5 linked regions of the Homo sapiens genome follow. The protein of the gene in region 5 purifies or fractionates together with the protein of the main gene of each other region. This does not show direct contact. Each region holds a gene or a part of one and is shown on either strand. Other genes may lie near its edges. The genes, in order: GFPT2, SRPX, BTBD9, SMTN and KCTD13.

Evidence for each region.
Region 1: the proteins of KCTD13 (region 5) and GFPT2 purify together in Homo sapiens (affinity purification with mass spectrometry; one large-scale study listed by BioGRID and IntAct). This does not show direct contact.
Region 2: the proteins of KCTD13 (region 5) and SRPX purify together in Homo sapiens (affinity purification with mass spectrometry; one large-scale study listed by BioGRID and IntAct). This does not show direct contact.
Region 3: the proteins of KCTD13 (region 5) and BTBD9 purify together in Homo sapiens (affinity purification with mass spectrometry; one large-scale study listed by BioGRID and IntAct). This does not show direct contact.
Region 4: the proteins of KCTD13 (region 5) and SMTN purify together in Homo sapiens (co-immunoprecipitation; one large-scale study listed by IntAct). This does not show direct contact.

The regions. Positions count from the first base shown.
Region 1 is NC_000005.10:180,328,720-180,333,016, reverse strand, and holds part of GFPT2 (glutamine--fructose-6-phosphate aminotransferase [isomerizing] 2), read left to right. Parts: intron 1-1,463; coding exon 1,464-1,522; intron 1,523-2,182; coding exon 2,183-2,317; intron 2,318-4,297. UniProt on the Homo sapiens protein: Controls the flux of glucose into the hexosamine pathway. Most likely involved in regulating the availability of precursors for N- and O-linked glycosylation of proteins.
Region 2 is NC_000023.11:38,217,578-38,222,535, reverse strand, and holds the start of SRPX (sushi repeat-containing protein SRPX isoform 1 precursor), read left to right. Parts: upstream 1-1,664; 5' UTR 1,665-1,743; coding exon 1,744-1,840; intron 1,841-4,958. UniProt on the Homo sapiens protein: May be involved in phagocytosis during disk shedding, cell adhesion to cells other than the pigment epithelium or signal transduction.
Region 3 is NC_000006.12:38,636,505-38,641,294, reverse strand, and holds the start of BTBD9 (BTB/POZ domain-containing protein 9), read left to right. Parts: upstream 1-1,365; 5' UTR 1,366-1,495; intron 1,496-4,790.
Region 4 is NC_000022.11:31,087,378-31,091,674, forward strand, and holds part of SMTN (smoothelin), read left to right. Parts: intron 1-587; coding exon 588-736; intron 737-1,076; exon of another isoform or gene 1,077-1,135; coding exon 1,136-1,229; intron 1,230-1,321; coding exon 1,322-1,400; intron 1,401-1,494; coding exon 1,495-1,592; intron 1,593-2,321; coding exon 2,322-2,642; intron 2,643-2,730; coding exon 2,731-2,803; intron 2,804-3,059; exon of another isoform or gene 3,060-3,203; intron 3,204-3,430; coding exon 3,431-3,502; intron 3,503-3,583; coding exon 3,584-4,105; intron 4,106-4,297. UniProt on the Homo sapiens protein: Structural protein of the cytoskeleton.
Region 5 is NC_000016.10:29,908,894-29,913,190, reverse strand, and holds part of KCTD13 (BTB/POZ domain-containing adapter for CUL3-mediated RhoA degradation protein 1), read left to right. Parts: intron 1-1,141; coding exon 1,142-1,231; intron 1,232-1,323; coding exon 1,324-1,376; exon of another isoform or gene 1,377-1,530; intron 1,531-1,633; exon of another isoform or gene 1,634-2,017; coding exon 2,018-2,213; intron 2,214-4,297. UniProt on the Homo sapiens protein: Substrate-specific adapter of a BCR (BTB-CUL3-RBX1) E3 ubiquitin-protein ligase complex required for synaptic transmission.

The sequences.
Region 1 (4,297 bases), on a different chromosome or scaffold from region 5:
TTGGGTGTGACCTCACAAAAACAAACACTACAATTTTTTTAAATAGAGGAAATCATGGTGAGAATAAAGAAAAAGAATAATGGAAAAGATTTCAAAAGATGCTGTGGGAGAAATCTTTCCCGAACTGAAGGAAAACTTGAGTTGGATATCCAAAGAAGGGATCAAAAATAGTCAATAGACCAGGCACAGTGGCTCAAGCCTATAATCCCAGCACTTTGGGAGGCCAAGGTGGGTGGATCGCCTGAGGTCAGGAGTTCGAGACCAGCCTGGCTAACATGGTGAAACCCTGTCTCTACTAAAAAAATACAAAAATTAGCCGGGTGTGGTGGCGAGCACCTGCAATTCCAGCTACTTGGGAGGCTGAGGCAGGAGAATCGCTTGAACCCGGGAGGCAGCAGTCGTGGTGAGCCAAGGTCACGCCACTGCACTCCAGCCTGGGCAACAGAGTGAGATTCTGTCTCAAAATAATAATGGTAATAATAAAAACAAATAAGACTTCACAGTGATGCTTTGAAAAAAATAGTCAATATTTATGAAGCGTATCCCACATCTAGACACCTCCTGGTGGAATTATTGAACCTCAAGGGTAATAGGGAATCTTTCTGTCCTCTAGGGGGAGAGGGAAACGGAGCTACTTGCCCAGAAAAATTCTCAGGCTGGCCTTGGATCTTTCCCTCAAGGCACTCATATGCGGGCTATTCATTGAGAAAATGCAGTGGGGTGGAGGCAGACATCCCTCACCGCATCCCCCGCATCCCCCTGCTCCCCCCGCCCCCCCGCCACCTCCCCGCCAGGATCAGCGGGGTGCTACCTGTGCAGGAAGCCGCCCGCGTGAGCTGGGTTGTGCGGCAGGAACTGGGGAGGTGGGAAAAGCTGCAGCTGGCAGATCCTGCTGTGCAGGAATGTGGCTGAGCCTGGGGATGCCAGAACTTCTGGGATTTTTCCCCCAAGGAAACCAGGATTTTAAAGTGAACACTCAGAATTTTAAAAACTCAAATATTTTTACAACACAGTGTGGGTCAAACACAGCACGGTGCTGGACTGTTCTTTGCGACCTCTTTGTGCCTAAAGCCAGTTGAGAGTGCCTGGAATCACTTCTGGAACGAAGGGCTCATCATCCCCGTGGGACATGAACCCCAAAGCCTGTTTGATACTATAATAGCGCACAGGGGAGAGCTCTCTGCACGGTCAGGCTGGTGGCTGCTGGTCACTGAAAGAGGGATGTGTATTTCCTCCGGATCCCATTGTAGTAGCCGCTGCCCTAGACATCCCTGGTGCTAATCCCTGGTTCCACTGTAGTTGCTGCCGTAAACATCTGTGCTAATCACTGTAAACAAAGTGTGCTTAACAGAAGTCTTGAGGCCTGGAGTTTGCAGAGAGTTCTCAAGCCTTGAAATCATCTCTCTTCACATCTGACATGAACCTCCTTCTCAATAGCATTTCTCTCTTAACTTTTCTTTCAGAATTTGTTGTCATCCACAATGGGATCATCACAAATTACAAAGATCTGAGGAAATTTCTGGTAAGATGCTTCCCCTAGGTGATGTCTCAGTCCGGTGGGATTGGTCTCCCCAGAAACTTTCCAGCCAGCTCATTTCCTTGCGGAAACCAGTGTGGGAACTGAGTGAGACCCACACTCAGCCACGTCACCGTGTTGAGAAGAAACCTCTGCCTTGGCTGAGCCAGGCCCTGCAGATCTCGTTTGAGGAGATAACAGGGCATTAGTGTTTATCTCAAGGGCCACTGCAGATTCCCAGAATCAAAATAACAGGAGCTTCGTTTTATTAAACTGTCTGCATTATATAACACAGCGACTCGTATACCGGCGGAGTTGGGACGGAAAGTCAGACAGTGACTGTCTGAAGTTTGAAAGGCTCTGTGGTGTTAGTTGGGATGTGGGTGGGTTTGACTCAACGTATTTTATCATTTTGACTGCTGTTATTTTGCAATGTCCAGATTAGTGGCAAGGGTGAGCTTCTGAGGTGGGATGATCTCAGGGCCTCCGGGAGTGACTCAGAGGTATTTGGCTGTGATGCTGGCAAACATTTTTCCCCCCTTCCCGGTTTTCCCTGTTCTTGACTTAAGTCACTCCAAGGGCAGATCACCAGGGAGGAGAGGGAGTTGGCCAGGCAGGCATTGTGCAATGACCAATCTCTCACACTGTGCCGACTGCATATTCCAGGAAAGCAAAGGCTACGAGTTTGAGTCAGAAACAGATACAGAGACCATCGCCAAGCTGATTAAATATGTGTTCGACAACAGAGAAACTGAGGACATTACGTTTTCAACGTTGGTCGAGAGAGTCATTCAGCAGTTGGTGAGTTACAAATCCCATCTGTCTAACTCATTCCTTCATTCTTTCATTAAAAACATTTTTTTCAAGCAGCAAGTGCCAAGGAATCCTTCATTTTTTATAAGCCCTTGTTAGACAAACTTGCACAGAGTCCTGGGGATAAAAGACAGCCCATCTGCAGAGCCTGGCCTTAAGATGTTACACTCTTGTAGAACTGGAAGACGTTCTGTGGTTTGGGTAGTCAACATCAAATAGAAAGTGCCCTGCTTCATCGTGACACTTCTGAAATTGTGACTGGCATTAGAGTCCGTGGCTTTTTATGATGCACACGTGAGCTTGGTGGTGGTGTGCAGAGAGAGTTGTGGTACCAAGCGAGGATGTGTTTCTAGGTTTTTCTTTTTTGAGACAGAGTCTCACTCTGTTGCACAGGCTGGAGTGCAGTGGTGTGATCTTGGCTCACTGCAACCTCCACCTCCCAGGTTCAGGCAGTCCTCCTGCCTCAGCCTCCTGAGTTAGCTGAGACTACAGGCACGCACCACCACACCTGGCTAATTTTTGTACTTTTAGTAGAGACAGGGTTTCACTATGTTGACCAGGCTGGTCTCGAACTCCTGACTTTAAGTGATCCACCTGCCTTGGCCTCCCAAAATGCTGGGATTTACAGGCGTGAGCCACTGTGCCTGGCCTGTTTTTGTGATAGGTGATATCACAGCATGTCTGTATGTGGAACGGAATGGCCCAAAAGAGGGAGAGAGGGAGAGAGATTGGGGACATCCCAGAGGACAGGGCCCAGGGAGAAGAAGTCCCTGAGAAGGGAGCACACACTGGGCGTATTGTCCAAGGGGAGGCCCCTACACTGAGGAGGAGGTGGAGCAGACACAGGCCCATGCAGGGTGCGGGAGGACGAGAGGGGTCCGGGCCTCTCAGAGCCCATCCTGTCAGACAGCAGTGCCACCCAGTAGCTCCCCCAGGGCTGTGGCAGCCTGGACACTGGCCCAGAGTCCAGAACATCTGGCAGGCACCATCCTGTAGTGTAAAATACATCATTCTTGAGCAGGTGTTTTCAGAGTCTGATTTAAAAAGTAAGTCTACTGTTGAAGCCTTTTTGTCCTCTAACTCCCGTTTTTGGAGGTCCATCATTTAGAGGACGTGTTTATAAAAAACAGCCTATCCCACATTTAATGTGCTGGATAAGGTACAGTGAGCCAATTAGGTATTACAGCATGCTGTTTCTTCTTTTCCATTTTTATTTTGAAATTTCAGAAATACCTCTCTCATAATGACACTTTTAAACTTAAGACTTTTCCTACCTGGGACAGTACCGGGCTCTTTTTGGCAGAGAACGTGCAGTGTTTTTCCATTCAGTCCTATTTTATTGTTGACAAAAGCACCAGGGTCTGCCTGAAGCCCCCTGGTTTGGGGCAGTTTGAAAGCCCCAATGAGGCCTGGGGACGGTGACTCAGGTTCCTGGCCCTGTAGCTGAGTTGGCAACCTGGACCCGACACGCTGACCACCCGGGGCCTGGGGCTGCCCGTGGCTTCCACACTTGGAGGATTTCTTGTGGAAATTCAGATTTGCAGCTGGTTATATATAACTGAGCTCTGCTAGGGTTGCGGTAAGTTAGTACAGGATGGTCAGGACGTGGGGGAAGAATTTACACCAAGAATTTAAGTCAAAAAACCATCTGGCCTCTTGTGTTAGGAGAGCTGGATTCTAGTTCTGGCTTTGCACAAACCAACCAGCTGAGGCCCAGAGGGCAGGTGGCAGTCGTATCCATGGAAAGGATAATAGCAGTAACGGTCATGACAACCTGTGCTTCTCTTGGGTCTCCGGATGCCAGGCTCAGTGCATTAGCTTATCATCGTCACGGAAGCCCCGCCAGGTGGCGCTGTTCTCACTTCCTTCACCGATGAGGAGAACGAGGCGCCAAGAAGGCTAAAGGGAGAGCCCAGTGCAGGGGTGGAGCCAGGATTTGAACCCAGGCCCTACCGTGTGTTGAGCTAA
Region 2 (4,958 bases), on a different chromosome or scaffold from region 5:
TATACCGTGGAGCTTAGCGGATTGGGGAGAGACAAAAATATGCATCTGGTCAAACTCCAGGTCACATTCCTAAAGATTCTGATTTTATTAGTGTGAGGTAGAGCCTGGATATGGTATTTTCATGAAGCTCCCCAGGTGACCCACATAAACAAGGTTGAGAATGACTCCCTGGAAAGTCTGGTCTGATGGAGGCCACAGAATAGACTGACCTCCCCCATTTCCTTGCGACTAGGGGGTTATTTAAGGGTTGTTGGTTCCCTGAAGAGGTAGCAGCAGTGGAGAAACCCACAGGAGATGGAGCGAAGTCCCCCCAAGTGCTAGAGAGGGTAAGATGGACGTTCAAGTCTGGGGCTTTTGTGAGAATTGGGAAATGGCACTCCTTCTGGATAAACAAATTCAGAACTTCTAGGTGAGTGCCCCCAGGGCTCTTAGCCTAGCTATCAGACCAGACTACTGTGGCAGAGAGAAAGATGCCCTTCTAGTGGATGTGGCCCCTGCCAAGACGCAAAGCTCCCTGAACCCAAAGGCATTTGGATTTTGGCTCCCACTTGCCCCTTCCTCTGGATGCCTTTGTACAGTGCCCAAACTGCACAACCTAATGCAGCAACTCCAACTAAAATTTGCCTTAGCTAAGATCTTTCTGAGACAGCAAAGGGGCAACGTATTGCCTTACTGATTTAACAAGAACTAAACAACCAAAACAACAAACAAACAAACAAAACTATGAGAGGCTTACTCAAATGCCTCAAAGAAACCAGATCCGTCCTGCGGGCAGCCTAGAAACCCTGTCCTGATGCCAGGATCCAGCGATGCCAAGCCACAGGGAAGAGGCTCCAGTCTGGTCGTGGTATCTTTGGGGTGGTTGAGAACAACCCAGGAAATGAGGAAATCTGGCTGCAGGAACCTACAGCTGGATCCCCATGGCTGTGGGTGAGACAGAGAACTTTCTGTGCCTTGTGCTCTCCCATCAGCTGATCCTGGAAGGAGAACCTCAAGCCCCATCCTAAACCGCAGCAGAGCAGGCACGCACCCGGTCCAGTCCTTGATTTATTCCTTTGCAAAAGAGAAACAAACTAACAAAAAATCTGTAGTATGGACTTTGACGTCGGCAGAACTACACACCTAAGTTCCAGTCCCTGCTCTGCCAGTAACGGGGGTGAATCTGGGCAAGTTTCTAAGCGTCGGTGTCTTATTGGAGAAAGTGGACATGGTAATAGCGAACTTGGGGCATGGTCGTGAGGATCAAAACAGAGAACATGGCCATAGTATCCGGCCGCAGTGGGCCACTCTGAATCCCCTCGGTTGCCCCTTCTGTTTCCGTGTGACTCACGCAGCTTTCTGCACAGATGGTATCCTTCTAGACGTCTGGGATGTTCGAGGCGGTTGTATTGAATACCGTGTGTGTATTCCGGGTGAGGGGGCGCGCAAATTGGGGCAAAGAAAGCTACTTCAGGATATTTCGCTCTGCTGGGGCTTGTCTCCAGCGCTCTCTGGCCAGAAAAAGCGCTGGCACAAAAGGAGGAGGTGGGTGGGTCAGAGCCCCGAACCGCGCAGTGTTCCAGGGGGGGCGGAGAAAGGAGGGCAGGCCCCAGGCAGGAAGGAGGGAGGGAAAGAGGCGAGAGGAGGAGTTTTCCAGCCCGGCCTTCGCCCGCCCGCTAGCACGCAGTCCCTTGGTCTCTTCGGTCTCCTGCCGCCCCCGGGAAGCGCGCTGCGCTGCCGAGGCGAGCTAAGCGCCCGCTCGCCATGGGGAGCCCCGCACATCGGCCCGCGCTGCTGCTGCTGCTGCCGCCTCTGCTGCTGCTGCTGCTGCTGCGCGTCCCGCCCAGCCGCAGCTTCCCAGGTAGGATCGGAGGCGTGGCTGCCTCCTCAGCTGGGCACCAAAGACCCCCGGAGTCGCCGTTGGGACCCTTCGCTCGGGATAGAGGGAGGTGCCGGGGGCGCCCTTTGTTTGCGCAGAACTCCTCTTTCGCAGCCCGAGGGTGGGGATGATGCGGATCGGGGCTGGTGTCTGGGCACGCGCCGGGAAGAACTGACCATCCCATCTCCAGGCGCGGGGCGCCCTCGCGGCGACGGGAGCCCTAGCACCTTCTGCGTCCGGGCTTCCAGAGTTCCAATCAAACCCTTTTCGGTGTAGGAGGCTCCACAGAGAAAGTTTGGCCGCAGACTAGTTTGCTACTTTCTCACCCCCAGAATTTTGCCTCTCACATGGTTGCCCACTGGAGGCTGGCAGCTTGTCCTGGAAGGAGCCTCTATGCCCTCCCACTACACGTCCCAGGCTACCCCCTTGGGGCCGCAGGACACGAGCCACGGTAAAGCGACTTTTGTGGAAGGCACGGGCGGGGCCTCCCCTGAATCTCTTAACCCCCCCTGCTGGGGATTCCGAGAAAGTCTGCGCCTCTGAGGAAGAATTGCCAGCTGAGAGTGGTGACATGTGGCATGCACTTGATTAGCCCCAGGGAAAGAGGGCTACTCGCGCAAGGATCTGCTGGGCAGAGGGTGCGGCTTATTCCTGGAGGGCGTGGTCTCCGGCATCTAAGGGGGCCCTGGTGTTTCTTGGGGGCTCTCATGGTGTGAGCAAAATTCTCTTTGGAGATGCACTTTAAAAAGCTCCAGCTAACTTCCTCACCCTGGAGTCTTAGGTTAGCGAAGAGCTTCAGGGGAGTAGGGCAATGTGCCATGCACTCCTGTTGCCTCGGAATGGAGAGGAAATCCATGGATGCGTTTTAATTTAGTGTTAATGGGAAAGTGGGTGACGTCGGCTATAGGGCGTGCAAATATTTGGCTCTGCGTTCAACACCGTGGGCAGCTTAAATCTAGGGTATGAGAAATGAACCTACTGAGTTCTGGTAGAAGGATAGAGGATGCCCATCTTTCTAGCAGTGTGCTTGGGAGATGTAGGGATGGCTGCGGGAAATTCTCTGCACGCACCTAAATAAATGAATGAATAGAACAAATTTGTAAATTAATAAACAGGAACATTTGTGTTTTGAGCTGACTCTTAAGTTTTAAGCTGCTTTGTAGGAACTGATTCAGGGTAAAGTGGAAAGGAAATTTTATCCTTACTGCCAGGCAACTGTTATTCCCATGGTGTGTTAATACCTCCTCTCCCACCCCCTTTAGCAGGAATCAGGTTAAAATGAACCTGTAGGGGAAGAGGAAGTCATTAAGCGTCCCAGAAGCAGCTTTCTGGGAGCGGGCAAATAAGGTGAGAAGCTAGAGGTAGCTTTTCCGCACTGAGTTGGGAGGTGCCTGTGAGCTGCCTGGGAACCTCAACTTTTAGTTGAGCCTTTCTCAAGCTGGGGACCCCTTCTCCTTTTCCATCCGACCTCCCTCCGTTCTCCTCCCCTGCCCTCCCCTCTCCTTTCTCTCATCTTCCACCTTTATATAGTACAGCTTGCTACCAGGGCCCAGCCACAGAATCATGAGTTCGCCAGTTTGGGCATTCACTACCACCTGTCTTTTGGGACCTATCCCTGGCTTTCCTGGCTCCCTCTGCCAGCCTGCAAGCTGCTCCCAACTTTTAGCCACCATGTTCCTGCTTGCCACCACCTCCACTGACTCCTAACCTGCCCTCCGGCTCTGCTCAGACCACAAATGAGCTGAAGCTGATTGGAGCTGCTTGATAAACACTCCTCTTGAGCCTCCTTTTGGCATGGCTCAATGGGGTCTCTTGGGAAGTGTGCTCCGCTGAGGTTGTGAGATCCAGAGGAGGGGATTTCAGTCCAAGCCAGAGGCTTTGGAAGGCTGGGGAGGGGAAAATCTCTAGGCCCTTGGGTCTGAAAGCAAATCACATAGGCTGAGTTCACTCTAAGTGCTGGGTGACAAATTTTAAAGATCATTTCAGAGACACTCTCTTAGCAAGTGGACATCATATCTTCAGTAAGAGAGAAAGTGAAGGACTTGAATCTGGAACTTCTGAAAGAAGATGGAGATCTAGGGCTCCATCAGCAAGTCGATTATGTAACTATCTGCACGTGAATAGCACATCTGTCAGAGTGAGAGTAAATCATTCTCATTCCCACTCCTAGAAGGTCTCTGGAGTTCTTCCATCTTAGAATTTAATGCAGCTTTTCTGGCTCTCTGATCTATTTTTTGCAGCCTAGCAAAGATGCAGTGTCTATAAAAACCTACATGAAGTGTATGGAAAATTTGTAGAAAAGTTGTTTGTGTTTGACTGTGTTTGTATGCTTATAACAGATGAGAATTTAGATTCTGTTCTTAAAATAATTCTTAGAGCTGTATTTGCATGTGAGATAGTGGTGGTTCACTCTGCCTCCTTCTGCAAACAAGGCTGAAGATGGAGAATGAGTACCATGGCCTCTAAGAAAGGCTTCGTGAATCTTACATCTGGAGAAAACTGGTAAAGTAGCGTGGTTTTACTAGTCAGGAAAACCAAGTGAGGTTTGCTAAAAGCCAAACCAGACTACATCAGCTGAAGCAGTCTTTTGAAATACCACATTTGGAGATAAGTACTAGGAATGGAGCACCTAGCTCAGGTTATATAATTAAGGTGTCACCGGGAACAGGCTAGGAATTCCTATTTAGATTTAAAACATGTAATCAGCTGACAAAAGTACTCTGCAATGAAAAGGAAATATGCTGGGGAGAGCAGGTCATTTTCCTCTGGCATTTTCTTCATTGATAACACTTTCAGTACAGTACAATGTTGTTTGTTAGTTACTACTCATTTCGCAGATTTGGGAGCTGAATGAGACACCAGAAACCATTGTTAAAGCAGCGTCTTCACATCTTCCCACCTCATCAGTCCTCGTACCATAACCAAAGTGCTGCTTTTCTCTTTTAGATTATTGCTATAACATTCTCACTTTTGGTCTCTCTAATTCTAGCTCATTTTACTTTCTCACTTTAGATAATGGTCTTTTAAGTCCATTGACTTTAGTACTGTTTTTTATCACATCACTCCCTTACTCAAAAACTTAGGGCAGCAGGTCCCTGTT
Region 3 (4,790 bases), on a different chromosome or scaffold from region 5:
CACCATCACTATCTATAATAGTAACTTAGACACTTGTGGATAATCAAGACTCATGTAGCTTGCCATCTTGCTAAATGTTACCACTGTCTACCTCAGCACTCATGCTAGAAACCTGGCCTACTCATTTATCCGCACTCAGTGCTGTGAATTCTACCACCTTAATGGCGCTAACATCTATCCCCTCCTCTATTCCCACTGCCAATGCCTTGTTTAATGTTCTTATCACTTGTCTGGAGTACTGCAATGGCCTAAAAATGGGTCTCCCTGCCCCAAGCCTTGCTTTTCCTGACCATTTTCACTTTCTACTTTTACTCATGAAGCTTCCTTTGCCCGGAATTAAGTCCTTCCCAATTTGTCTCCTCCAACAACTGCAAGGGCGGTCCCCTAGCTTGCTCCAGCGTCGGGGATAACTGACTTTCCTACACCAGCTACAGTCAGACCTGCACCCGGATTTCTAGGACTCTTATCTATGTAGATAGATAAATACATTTTTTTGAGACAGTGTCTTGCTCTCACTGCAGAGGCTGGAGTGCAGCGGCGCGATCACGGTTCACTGCAATCTTGAACTCCCCAGGTTCAAGCGATCCTCCCACCTCAGCCCCCCGAGCATTTGTGACTACAGGCGCGCGCCAACATGCCCATTTAGTTTTTGTCTTTTTTGTAGAGACGGGGTTTCACTATGTTACCCAGGCTGGTGTCGAACTCCTGAGCTCAAGCGATCCGCCCACCTCGGCCTCCCAAAGTGCTGGGATTACAGGCTTGAGCCACCAAGTCAAATGGGCTTTATACTTACAAAGTACCTTTGCATACCTTATTTCATTTTCACCTCACAATTCTCCAGCGTAGGCTGGACCGGTATTATTATGCCCATTTACTGAGAGAGGAAACTGAGAGTCAAGGCTGGGCCAGTCACACCCTGCTGCGAAATTAACGAGCATCACTTAGCAGCCTCGACATTAACCGCGCTCGCGCTCTCATCCCTTTCTGGTCCTACTCCTTGGAGAACCTTCCTGCACCTCCAAGAACTTGCCGATCGGGTCTGCGGCGGTCTGGACGAGGTCACTCCACAGGCGCCCAGGACCTTCTCATCCGTAGTGACGTGCGCCGGTGACGCCATACAGTGACGTGTGGTGACTCGACTTACCCGGAGCCAGGTGCCGGCAGGGCAGCCACACCCTGGGGCCCCCTGTTCTGGAGGGGCAGAGGGTCGGGCCGATGCGAAAAAGCCGCGGAAGCTGCCTTAGGCGACTTTCTGGGCCTGCATCGCCGGACCCAGCAGCCCGCTGTCGATCGGTTGCTAAGTGACGCCAGCGCGCAGTGGCGCGTGCGCGGCCACGGCGGAGTGCGTGAAAGCGGACGCGCGCCGCAGCAGCCGGGGCGGCGGCGAGGACGGCGGCCACGGAAGCGGCCAAGGGGGCGGTGGCGCAGAGAGGGGTGCGGAGCGGGCGGAAGAGGCGTCTGTGTCGCAGCTTGGTCTCAGAGGAGCATCGCTGGGGTGAGTAGCCGGGTCCTTGCAGGGGAGGTGGGGCCTGGCCGCACCTGCGGCGCGGGGACGCGCGCCCCCGCCGTATCCGCGCGCACCGCCCCCCGCCCCTCCGCCGCTTTTTCCGGGGGCGGGGGAGGAGCTGGGACGGGGCCTGACGAGGGTCATTTCTTGGGCCCGGGTGCTCTGGGAGAGCGGTAGCCGTCCCGTTCGCAGTCCACGAAGGTGTAGTGGGAAGTAGACGTTTCGGGGATTCGGGGTGGCTCTACCAGCCTCCCAAAGAGAGGAGTTCGAATCAGGGGCAGCCCAGGTTCCCTAGCAGTCTCGTATCCTGTCTGAGACGACGTTGCCTGGGACTGAGGAGGCGAAACCCGGGACCCCGGGGTGGGGGTTTGGAAAGTTTGGGACTGCTGGGGCCCTCATCTCCCCTGCCCTGGCCAGCCTCTGAGTAGGAGCTGGTTGTTATGGAGAGAGTTGTGAATCAGTGCCTGCGTGCGGCATCAGACACACCCACGACCTTGGGAGGGCGACCTGTCAGTATAGATCCGGGGCAGCCAACCTGTTGCCTAGAGTTTCTAACTTCACATGTATGTGCATGTGTTTCCTTGGCGTTTTAGTACATTGTTGTTACAGATTTTGAGACCAAGGTGCTGATAGGCATCCTCATTTCTTACTTCCTCATAGACTTAGTTATCTTGCTATATTTCCCAGAACCGTGTTGTGCTTTTGTCATTAGTAGATCCAAGGAAGTATGGAAGCATGTTTTGTTTGTTTTTCCTAAAGGCAGTACAGGCTGCTATTTTCTGGGCAGAAAATACGGATTCTGTTCACTGTGTGGGCGGAAAGTGTTGATGATGGGAGAACCCAGCATGTAAAGGTGTAGCTCATCCTCAGCCCTGTGCTGTCTTCTCAGTGCTCTGGACTCTATCATGGGTAGATGTATAGGGGTTGTGGTTACCATACTTGGGAGCGAGGAATATTGGAGACAGGGAAGAAGCCAGTCTTTTCTTTCTGTTGATTAAGGCAATTTGTAGAACCAGTGAAAAGATAGGCTGTACTGAAATCTAATGTTTTGTGTAAGAGGATAGAGGAAAATAAGTTCAAGGTTCTCATTTAGGTCTAAAATTCTATGATTCTGTTTCATAACTGAGAATCTGTAAAGTATGTTACCTCTTGGAACCAGTAATAACCTTGCTTTGTAACACTTATTAGATTACTCGGAATTCAAAGTGTCTTCCTCCCTCCACTGTAATAGCTTTTAGGACAGGAGTCATCTGTGTTTTCCTCCTTGCCCTATGTCTAACACATAGGAAAAATGTGCTTGCCACAGAGTAGGCATGCAATGGATATTTGTTATATAGCACACTATGCTCAAGTGGTGTATCTATGTATAGAAAGCATTGAGTTCAGTCCATCAAGTACTTAATACATGTGCCTCCCTCTGCCCAGTATCATGATAGGTGTGGGAGGAGGATTATGGAGTGAAAAATGACATAGAAGACCTGTCTTTTTTTTCCCTTTGAGAGCAGTAGTCTAGCTAGGAGATGTATAAAATAATTATAAAACCAAGTTAAGTAGCAGGTAACCAGTGCTGTTTGAGGACTATAAATGTGGTAGAAAATCAGAAAAGATAGGATGTGTAGGCTGAGTTAGGGAACTCTTTGAAAGAGGCAAGATTTGACTTGGTCTCTGAAAGAAGTTAAAATTTGTTAGGAAATAAACCAGGAGCTGAGAAAATAATAATGTGAATTTGGTTGTTGGAGGATATACCAAGACGACTTTTATGTCTGGTAACTGGAGCGGAACGTCTCTTATAGGGGAATACTGGAGAGAGATGGCTTAGCAGGTTGGGAAGGCAAAGTGTTAAGGATTAAGGCGGGCTTATCAGCATCCCACTGTTAACAAGATACAGCCTTCTTGTAAGGTGGGATAGAGGTTGTATTAATCAGAGTACAGTCTTTGACAAGAATAAGTGTTATCCTTACTTGAAAGTAAAGGATATTACGCTTGAACCAATATCAGGTTGTTAATATACTTTTGATTTCAATTACTAATTGGAATCGATGCCTCACTAATGTGCATGTATTTTAGGTAGTCAGTGGTGCATGTCTCATTATCTAAAATCTACCTGATGTACTTGGGCCATTGTATTGGAAATTTACTGAAATGATGTACCAATAGTCATCCAGTCACACTCAGTGACATAGTTTTGCTTGGGATTATCTCTCTGAGGTTTGTCTTTACTGCTGATCCTGTAAAATATACAAATGTTAGTTGGGAAAGGAGTCTTTCTGATGAACGATGCTTAAAAATACTGACCAAAGAGATTTCAGAATAATTAAAGACCCTGCTGCTGAATATTGAACCCTTGGTCTTTATTTATAACATCTTCTGTTATGTGAAAATTCTTTTGAGTGGTATGTAAACCTGAAGTTGAATTGCTAACCAAGATGTGTAAAGTTACAACTGCAAATGTTGCATTATTTAACAACTCAGCAGATACTTACTGGGTGCTGGCTATGGCGAGACACTTCGTTGGGTGCTGGGAAGACAAAGAAGTTAAGACACAGTATATGCTCAGCATACTAAGTGTTCATCAGAAGAGATAAACCACTAACCATTATGTGCTGTGACAAATTAATCACTTTTGGAATGAATAATGTGCTGGGGGAGTAGAGTGCTTTGGCTGGAGAAAAAACTGATAGGGAACATGTTGAGAAGAAGGGGATGGAGCTTAGCTCTGAGGGTTAAATAAAATTTCGCCACATGTAGAGGTGGAAGAGAGCATTCCAGGGGCCAGCATAAGCAAAGTTGCTGAATATTAAAATTAAATAGCGCTTTTGGAAATATCTTGAGTTGTTTCTTGTGGGCAAGAGAGGGGAGAGGGCTGAACTCATCTCAAGAACCCATTCCTGAGATAATGAACCCATTCCTGCTATAATGGCATTCATCCATTCATGAGGGCCTAATCACTTCTTATTGCATGGGGGAAGTGATGAGGCAGGAAGCTGTTTTTGGAGCCAAATTATGAGGGGGTCTTCCACTTCATCCTAAAAAGTCTAGACTCCTCCCATCCATTGGCAGTGGAGAGCCATAGAAGGTAGAATAATCAGAAAGTTGACAGTTCGTGTGCAGATTGCATTAGAGTAGAGAGGCAGGGAGACTAGAGTGTAGGTGAGAAATGTTGGACAATGGGAATGGATAGATTTTGGAGACATTTTTAGATGTTAAAATCTCTACATTTATGACCAGCTAGAGGTAAGGGAGAGTGAGAAGTCAAAGATAATATGTCTAGTTTGAGCAACTG
Region 4 (4,297 bases), on a different chromosome or scaffold from region 5:
TTCTTCCATGGTGGCTAGGTCCAGGCCAGTGCAGTGGGGACAATAGCCCTCAGCCAGGCAGGACTCCTGAGCACCTGTCCTCAGTTTCCCCATCTGTGGATGAAGCAGTCAACCCCCAGCTGGGCTGTGGTGTTTGGTGACTAGACCAGGGAGCCTCCCTTGCTCAGAGGGTGGACTTCATCTGTCACCTTTCCCTCTAGGGACCCTGTTAGTGACCCACAGGGTGGCCTCCCTCCTCCTCCTACAATAGCTCCCTGACTTTTGGGGATCTGGGCTCTGAGAGGCAGGAATCGAGTTGTAGAAAGGAGTGCCTGGCTTGGCACCTGGCACAAGTGGGCAGTTTCTGGCTGTCCACTCACAGTTGTGTGCTCTGTGAACCACAATGCAAAGTGGACTACCCAAGATCCCTGAAACAGTGGGCTGGGTCTACCCCCGGGACCCTGCGTGGGCAGGCAGGCACGTGAAGAGCTTGGGACACAGGGAGTGGACACAGGCCACACATTGTGCCCTAGGCAGAGCCGTGGGCAGCTGGTGCCAGCCCTCCGCCCCTGGCAGCCAAAATGACCTGCCTCTCGCACCCACTGCAGCTGGAGGTCACAGCAGATCTGGCAGAGCGGCGGCGCATCCGCTCAGCCATCCGGGAACTGCAGCGGCAGGAGCTGGAGCGCGAGGAGGAGGCCCTGGCATCCAAGCGTTTCCGTGCCGAGCGGCAGGACAACAAGGAGAACTGGCTGCAGTGAGTAGCGGGGGGTGGAACATGCGGGTGAGAAGGTGAGTGTGAGCCCTGGCTCAGCTCATGTGTGCAGGCAGGCGTGAGCACAAGTGTATCTGTGGATTGCATGTGCTAATGGCAGTACGTCCACACACGCTTCTGGAAAAACAGAGATGTTTGTGGGCATGGAGCATGTACTGATTGTGGCGTCGCGGCCGTGCTGATGTAGCCAGCACGTCTGAGTGTGTGGTATTAGTGCCCACGTCCATGGGCATATGTGTATCAGTGTGCAGTTAGAGGGTGTGCACAGCCACATGCCCTTCTGCCAAGGTTCTGGGTACTCTGTTCTGGCTCCTACCCTTAGCCCACATCCTCCACGACCTGGCCATGGCAGTGGTGGTTACAGTCATGATGTCTCTGCAGCTCTCAGCAGCGGGAAGCTGAGCAGCGGGCTGCCCTGGCACGGCTGGCAGGGCAGCTGGAGTCCATGAACGATGTGGAGGAATTGACTGCACTGGTGAGGCCCAGGCTGGGGCAGGGGATGGGGGCAGGGCAGGTGAAGACCTGGACTCCACAGCCCAACACCCGCGACCTGTCTCTTACCCACAGTTGCGAAGCGCTGGTGAGTATGAGGAGCGCAAGCTGATCCGAGCTGCCATCCGCCGTGTACGGGCTCAGGAGATTGAGGGTATGTGGCCTGTCCCGGCCCCACCCCTGCCCTGCTGTCTGCTGTCCACAGCACCTCCCTGTCACTCACCTGCCACTTGCTCCTTCCCTTCCAGCTGCCACCTTGGCTGGGAGGTTGTACAGCGGGCGTCCCAACAGTGGCTCAAGAGAGGACAGCAAGGGGCTAGCGGCACACAGGCTGGAACAGTGTGAGGTAAGGAGGGTGGGAGAGTGGCCCAGTGTCCTGTGCCCATGGATACCGGTAGCACAGAGTGCCTGAGTGTCTTTGCTAGGCTGGTATTTCACTGTAAGGGGCCCACCCCTGCCATCCAGCCTCTATTTAGCAGTCAGAGGGATCTCCCAGAAATGCAAATCCGGCCCTGGCACCTCCCCTGCTTCAACCCGTCCCAGGGCTGCCCCTCACCCTCCACACAGCCCACATCTTTACCTTGGCTTATGGGGCCTGCATGTCAGACCCCAGCTGGCTCACAGTTCACTCTATTTTCCAGAGTGTGGGTGAGAGGTCAGGCCATGCAGGTTCCCCAAGTGGCCAGCAGAGGCCGCTGGGTCCACGGTCCTGGCAGGACCCCACTCCCACTCCAGATGAACCAGGCTGAGGCCAGGAGTCAGGAACCTCCACTCCAGGGATCTATTAAGGCTCCCGTCCCCAATAGGTCTCCTGCCATACCCACCCACTGACATCAGGACCTGGTCCTCTCTGAACCCCTTTGGCTAGGTAGTGCCAAGAGATTGGGAAGTGGGGATCAGAGACTGCCCTTAGCATGCCAGTGCCAGTGCTTGCGCAGGTGTGCCTACAGGAAGCCATGCCCCACCACTCTGCTTTGCATGCCCTGCCCTGGGCACTTGCCAGCCTGGCCCTCAGTGGTGGGGGTGGCGTTCAAAGCCTAGGGAGCCTTGGTTGCATCCTGTGGGTCCCTTACAGGTGCCAGAGCGAGAGGAACAGGAACAGCAGGCAGAGGTTTCAAAGCCAACCCCCACCCCTGAAGGCACCAGCCAGGATGTGACCACAGTGACACTCCTGCTGCGAGCCCCACCTGGGAGCACATCCAGCTCACCTGCCTCACCCAGCAGTTCACCCACCCCTGCCTCTCCTGAGCCTCCATTGGAGCCTGCCGAGGCCCAGTGCCTTACAGCTGAGGTTCCAGGCAGCCCAGAGCCACCCCCCAGCCCACCCAAGACCACCAGCCCTGAGCCTCAGGAGTCTCCAACGCTCCCCAGCACTGAGGGCCAGGTGGTCAACAAGGTGAGTCTGGATGAGGGGCAGGGATGCCAGGCAAGTGAGCAGGTCTGGGAGTCAGGCCTTGCTCAGGCCCTGTTCTTCTCCCTTGCAGCTTCTGTCTGGCCCCAAAGAGACCCCTGCTGCCCAGAGCCCCACCAGAGGCCCCTCTGACACCAAGAGAGCAGGTGAGGGTCCCAGCAGGGGTAGTCACAGGCATCTTTCTTCCCCTCCCCCTGCCTCCCTTTCCCTGCCTAGAAAATGGGCTCTTGTGCCTGGCAGCTCTAGCTTCCTCAGGTCCATGCAGTCCCTGATACTGCACCCCACCCCTGAAGTGTCCCCGCCCCCAGCTAGGCCAGCCTCCCCCTCCACCCCCATGGCTAGAGGCCTCCCCTGCAGCCTTGAAAGGCAACGGGCCTCAGGCACATTCTTCTCCCCAATAAGGGAGTCCACCCATCTCCCAGCTGGAGCTGTGGGCAGCACTGGCCAGGAGGGCTGTCCCCCCTCCCCATCTGCAGAAAGGATCTGGGCACCCTTCCTCCAGCCTAAGCCTCGCCTGGCCCCCAGGAGTGTCCAAGTCATCCTAGGGTCAGTGTGGCAGGAGAAGGAGGTGCCTGTAGGAGAGATGCAGCCGAGTGGGGATGCCGGAGTGTGGGAGATCCAGGAGGGGATGGAGAGGTGGGGTGGGGGTTGAGTACAGGAAAGGGTGGGAAGCTAGGGAGGTGTAGAGGAGAGGATTATGAAAGGTGGACACCCACTATCCCCTGTCTTTTCTCTTTCCCCACATGGCCATCACCCCCTCCCCAACCTGCCAGACGTGGCTGGACCCCGACCCTGCCAACGCTCCCTGTCGGTGCTCAGCCCCCGCCAACCAGCCCAGAACCGAGGTACTACCTATTCTCACCCTGCCTAGGATCTGTGCAGACCCTGTCCCACCCAGTTGCTGACAGCCCTCCTGTTCCTTCTAGAGTCCACCCCCCTTGCCAGCGGACCTTCCTCATTCCAGCGGGCTGGCTCTGTGCGGGATCGTGTCCACAAGTTCACATCTGATTCTCCTATGGCTGCTAGGCTCCAGGATGGCACACCCCAGGCTGCCCTAAGTCCCCTGACCCCCGCAAGGCTCCTGGGCCCCTCCCTCACCAGCACCACCCCTGCCTCCTCCTCCAGCGGCTCCTCCTCTCGGGGCCCCAGTGATACCTCCTCCCGGTTCAGCAAGGAGCAACGAGGAGTAGCCCAGCCCCTGGCCCAGCTTCGAAGCTGCCCCCAGGAGGAGGGCCCCAGGGGGCGGGGCTTGGCTGCTAGGCCCCTTGAAAACAGAGCAGGGGGGCCTGTGGCACGTTCAGAGGAGCCTGGTGCCCCGCTGCCCGTGGCCGTCGGCACTGCCGAGCCAGGGGGCAGTATGAAGACCACATTCACCATCGAGATCAAGGACGGCCGTGGCCAGGCCTCCACAGGCCGGGTGCTGCTGCCCACAGGCAACCAGAGGGCAGGTAGGCGCCCCCCACTGCCTCCCCAATGGGGATGAGTGCCTGCAACCGCACTTCTGCATGCAGGACAGGTGCTGCGGCCAGGACTCAGGGTGTCTCCAAAGGGTGTGCTGGGAGCGAGGGCATTATCAACCTTGTCTGGCACTGCCCTCACTCCACCTGATCCTCCTGACAGCCACCTTTCTCCCCACTCAG
Region 5 (4,297 bases):
TGGTCATGCCACTGCACTCAGCCTGGATGACAGCAAGACCCTGTCTCAAAAAAAAAAAAAAAAAAAAAATGGCCTCAGTAATTGTAGACTTTTATTATTCTCTGTTAATTTTAGAGAGTCTTATGAGTTTCTGCAAAAAACAAATCTGGAATTTGTATTAGAATTGCGCATTGAGTTTTCAAGGTTGGGAGAAGTGAGAGGGATTTTGGCATGAAGATTCTAGAAGACAGAAGAGAAAGAAGCCCATGGGTTTGCTTCAGATTTCTTTCTCCAACGTCATCCCACCCAATGAAGTTCATTCACTCAACAAATATGTTCATTCATTCAACAAATACAGAGCATCAGCTGTATACTAGGTAGTTATTCCTAGGTGGGAAGAGACAGATCATAAACAAATACAAAAAGTTAGAAAAAGTCAGACACTAACTGCTGTGTAGAAAATGAACTGATAGGCCTGGTGCAGTGGCTCACGCCTGTAATCCCAGCACTTTGGGAGGCTGAGGCGGGCTGATCACCTGAGTTCGGGAGTTCATGACCAGCCTGACCAACATGGAGAAACCTCGTCTCTACTAAAAATACAAAATTAGCTGGGTGTGGTGGCACATGCCTGTAATCCCAGCTACTCAGGAGGCTGAGGCAGGAGAATTGCTTTAACCCGGGAGGTGGAGGTTGCAGTGAGCCGAGATGGCGCCATTGCACTCCAGCCTGGGCAACAAGCGAAACTCTGTCTCAAAAAAAGAAAAAGAAAACTGATAACACAAAAGGCAGGATGTAGAGGAGGCTGTTTTAGCCAGGGGGGCTGGGGAGGGCTGGCCCTGAGGAGGCACTGTGTGACCTGCGATCTGAATGGCATGACGGACACGCCACGCTGACAGCTGAGCAAAGAAGCATCCCGGGCAGGGGCACAGCCAGTGGCCGGGGCAGGCACAAGCTGGATGTGTGAAGCAGCAAGGTGTCCGTGGGACCAAGGCCCAGCAAGCAAAGGGAGAGTGGCAGAGAGGCTGGCGGAGCTTGGAGCCTGCAGAGCCCTGCGGACCACTGAGGAGTCTGGAGTTGTTCCCAACCAGCTTTTGAAGGCTTTTAAGTGGGGGAGTACGTGGCCTTTGGTTGTGCTGTTAACCACCTTCCGCTTCTTCCCCAGCAAAAAAGGGAGACGCTGTCCCCGCTGTGCCTCATCCCCATGGTGACATCTCCCCGGGAGGAGCAGCAGCTCCTGGCCAGCACCTCCAAGGTGAGGCCCCCAAGCCCTGCAGGGTGGAGGCTCACTGGGGGGGCCTCTCCCTGCAGCCTCACCCCTCTCGTCCATCCTCTCTCCCCCGCCAGCCCGTGGTGAAGCTCCTGCACAACCGCAGTAACAACAAGTACTCCTACACCAGGTGACCGCCGGGGTGCGGGGCACTGGGCGGGACCCTGGGATGCAGCACAGCCCTGCTTCTGCCCAAGGCGAGGGCCACGGCCACACGGGGGGCCTACAAGAACATCTGTGCCTGCTCGCAGATTCGGCTTCGCCTCTTACCCCTGACGCTCTAGGCAGGTCCTTTCTGCTTCTCAGCTTCAGCTCAGTCATCAGTAAATGGGTTTGGGTGAGGACAAAGTGATAGTGGCGAGCCTATCCCAAGTGCTCTCATTCTAGGAACTGGCAGAGTCCTCCCCCTTGAGGTCAGTACTGTTGTGAGCTCCATTTTACAGATGAGGAGGTCGGGACACCAAGAGGTGAAGTAACTTGCCTAGTGTCACCCAGTTAAAAAATGGGGACACCAGGACCCCCGGGGAGGTGGCCTGGCTCCCGGTCCCTCACTGGAGCTGCTGTGCTGTGCTGTGCTGGGATTTGCTCAGCGCATGTGGCTTCCCTTCTGAGACCCGTTTAGCCTGGCCCCAGGGGTGGAGGAGGCTCTCTGTTGAGCACCAAAGCCCTGGGCAGGAGCAGAGGACTGGGAATGCATCCAGGCCCGTCTTCTGGGGGTACAGAGGGAGGGGTGCCAACTGCGCTGAGGCCTCCTGGTCCCCTGGTCCCCAGCACTTCAGATGACAACCTACTTAAGAACATCGAGCTGTTCGACAAGCTGGCCCTGCGCTTCCACGGGCGGCTACTCTTCCTCAAGGATGTCCTGGGGGACGAGATCTGCTGCTGGTCTTTCTACGGGCAGGGCCGCAAAATCGCCGAGGTGTGCTGCACCTCCATTGTCTATGCTACGGAGAAGAAGCAGACCAAGGTCAGAGGGGCTCCAGAGCCTATGTTGGGGGCTGGGGGTGGCCAGGACCAGGACCCTGGACAAAAGCAGGTTGGCAGGGGAAGGAGCCCACCACCAGGAGGCAGGAGCCAGATCCTGGGGTCTGGGGTGCACAACAGTGGGCAAGCCACCCTATCCCTGTGGGTCTCTGTTTCTCTGTGAAATGGGGGTCACGGGTTAGAGCAGGGTGCTTAGCCTAGGCCTGTTGGATGGGTTTCAAGGCTGTTTGCAACTCCTGAAATGGGGGTGTATGCATTTTTCTGTATAGGGGGTCCATAGTTGCCATTAGAAACTCAGAAGGGGTGAGGCATAGTGGCTTACGCCTGTAACCCCAGGACTCTGGGAGGCCAAGGCAGGAGGATCACTTGAGCCCAGGAGTTCGAGACCAGCCTGGGCAACATCGTGGGACCTGATCTCTGTAAGAAGTCAAAAAATTTAGCCAGGTGTGGTGGCTTGGTGACATGATGGCATGCACCTGTAATCCCAGCTACTCAGGAAGCTAAGGCAGGAGGATTGCTTGAGCCCAGTAATTTATTTATTTATTATTATTATTATTATTATTTGAGATGGAGTCTCGTTGTGTCACCAGGCTGTAGTGCAGTGGCACAATCTCCGCTCACCGCAACCTCTACCTCCCAGGTTCAAGCGATTCTTCTGCCTCAGCCTCCCCAGTAGCTAGGACTACAGGCACGTGCCACCATGCCCAGCTAATTTTTGTATTTTTAGTAGAAACGGGGTTTCACCATGTTGGCCAGGATGGTCTCAATCTCTTGACCTCGTGATCCACCCACCTCAGCCTCCCAAAGTGCTGGGATTACAAGCGTGAGCCACTGCCCCCAGCCTATTTTTTTTTTTTTTTTTTTAGACAGAGTCTCACTCTGTTGCCCAAGCTGCAGTGCAATGGTGTGATCTCAGCTCACTTAACCTCTGCCTCCCAGATTCAAGTGATTCTCCTGCCTCAGCCTCCCAAGTAGCTGGCACTACAGGCACCCGCCTCCATGCCCGGCTAATTTTTGTATTTTTTAGTAGAGACTAAATGTAGTAGAGAAGTCTCTTTAGTAGAGACTTCGCCATGTTGGTCAGGCTGGTATTGAACCCCTGACCTCAAGTGATCTGCCCTCCTCGGCCTCCCAAAGTGCTTGGATTATAGGTGTGAGCCACCGGGCCCGCCCTAGCCCAGGAATTTGAGGCAGCAGGGAGCTATGATCATGCCACTGCACTCCATCCTAGGAGACAGAGTGAGCCCTAACTCTAATTAAAAAAAAAAAAAAGGGAAACTCAGAAAGGCCCATTGCCAAAAATAGATTCTTAAAACCTCAGAATCAGATGTCTCTTAGAACATCCTCTGAGTTTGTAGATCCTGAGTCATTAATGTGGCAATCATCAAGATATTCCCCAAGCCCCTGCTCTGTGCTAAGTACTGTACCGGGCTGGAAATCAAGGGGAATGAAGTGCTGAGCAAAATACAAGCCCTTCCTCATCTGGTCCCTTCCGAGCTTACTATGAGCCACATGCCTCAGGTACACCACAGTCATCACAAGTCTCTAAGCACTCAGTGCTATTTCTTACCTCTTACCTCTGCACACACTGTTGCCTCTTGGAATTCTTTCCTTCTATCTGCCTAATGAACTTGTACTTAATCTTAAGACTCAAGCTAAGCATCACTTTCTTTGGGTCACCTTCACTCATGAACTTTCAATCCAGCAACCCCAAAGTTGGTCACACTCCCTTCATAGCTAAAGACAGTGTTTTATCATGTGTGGTGGAGGGGAGGGGGTTTGCATCAGCAGCGAGGTGTTAGTTCCTTGAGGGCAGGGCCATGTCTTTTTCTTTCCTATCTCCCATTAGCTGGGCCCTTTTCACACAGTGGAAGCTAGGAAACATTTATTGAATGAATGAATGAATGAATCAGTGACCCAGCTTCCAAGAAACATCCTCTGATTGGGAAGATAGGAAGATAAACCAATAATTAGAGTGCATGGCTCACACCTGTAATCCCAATACTTTAGGAGGCTGAGGCAGGGGACCATTAAGGCCAGGAGTTTGAGGCCAGCCTGGGCAACACA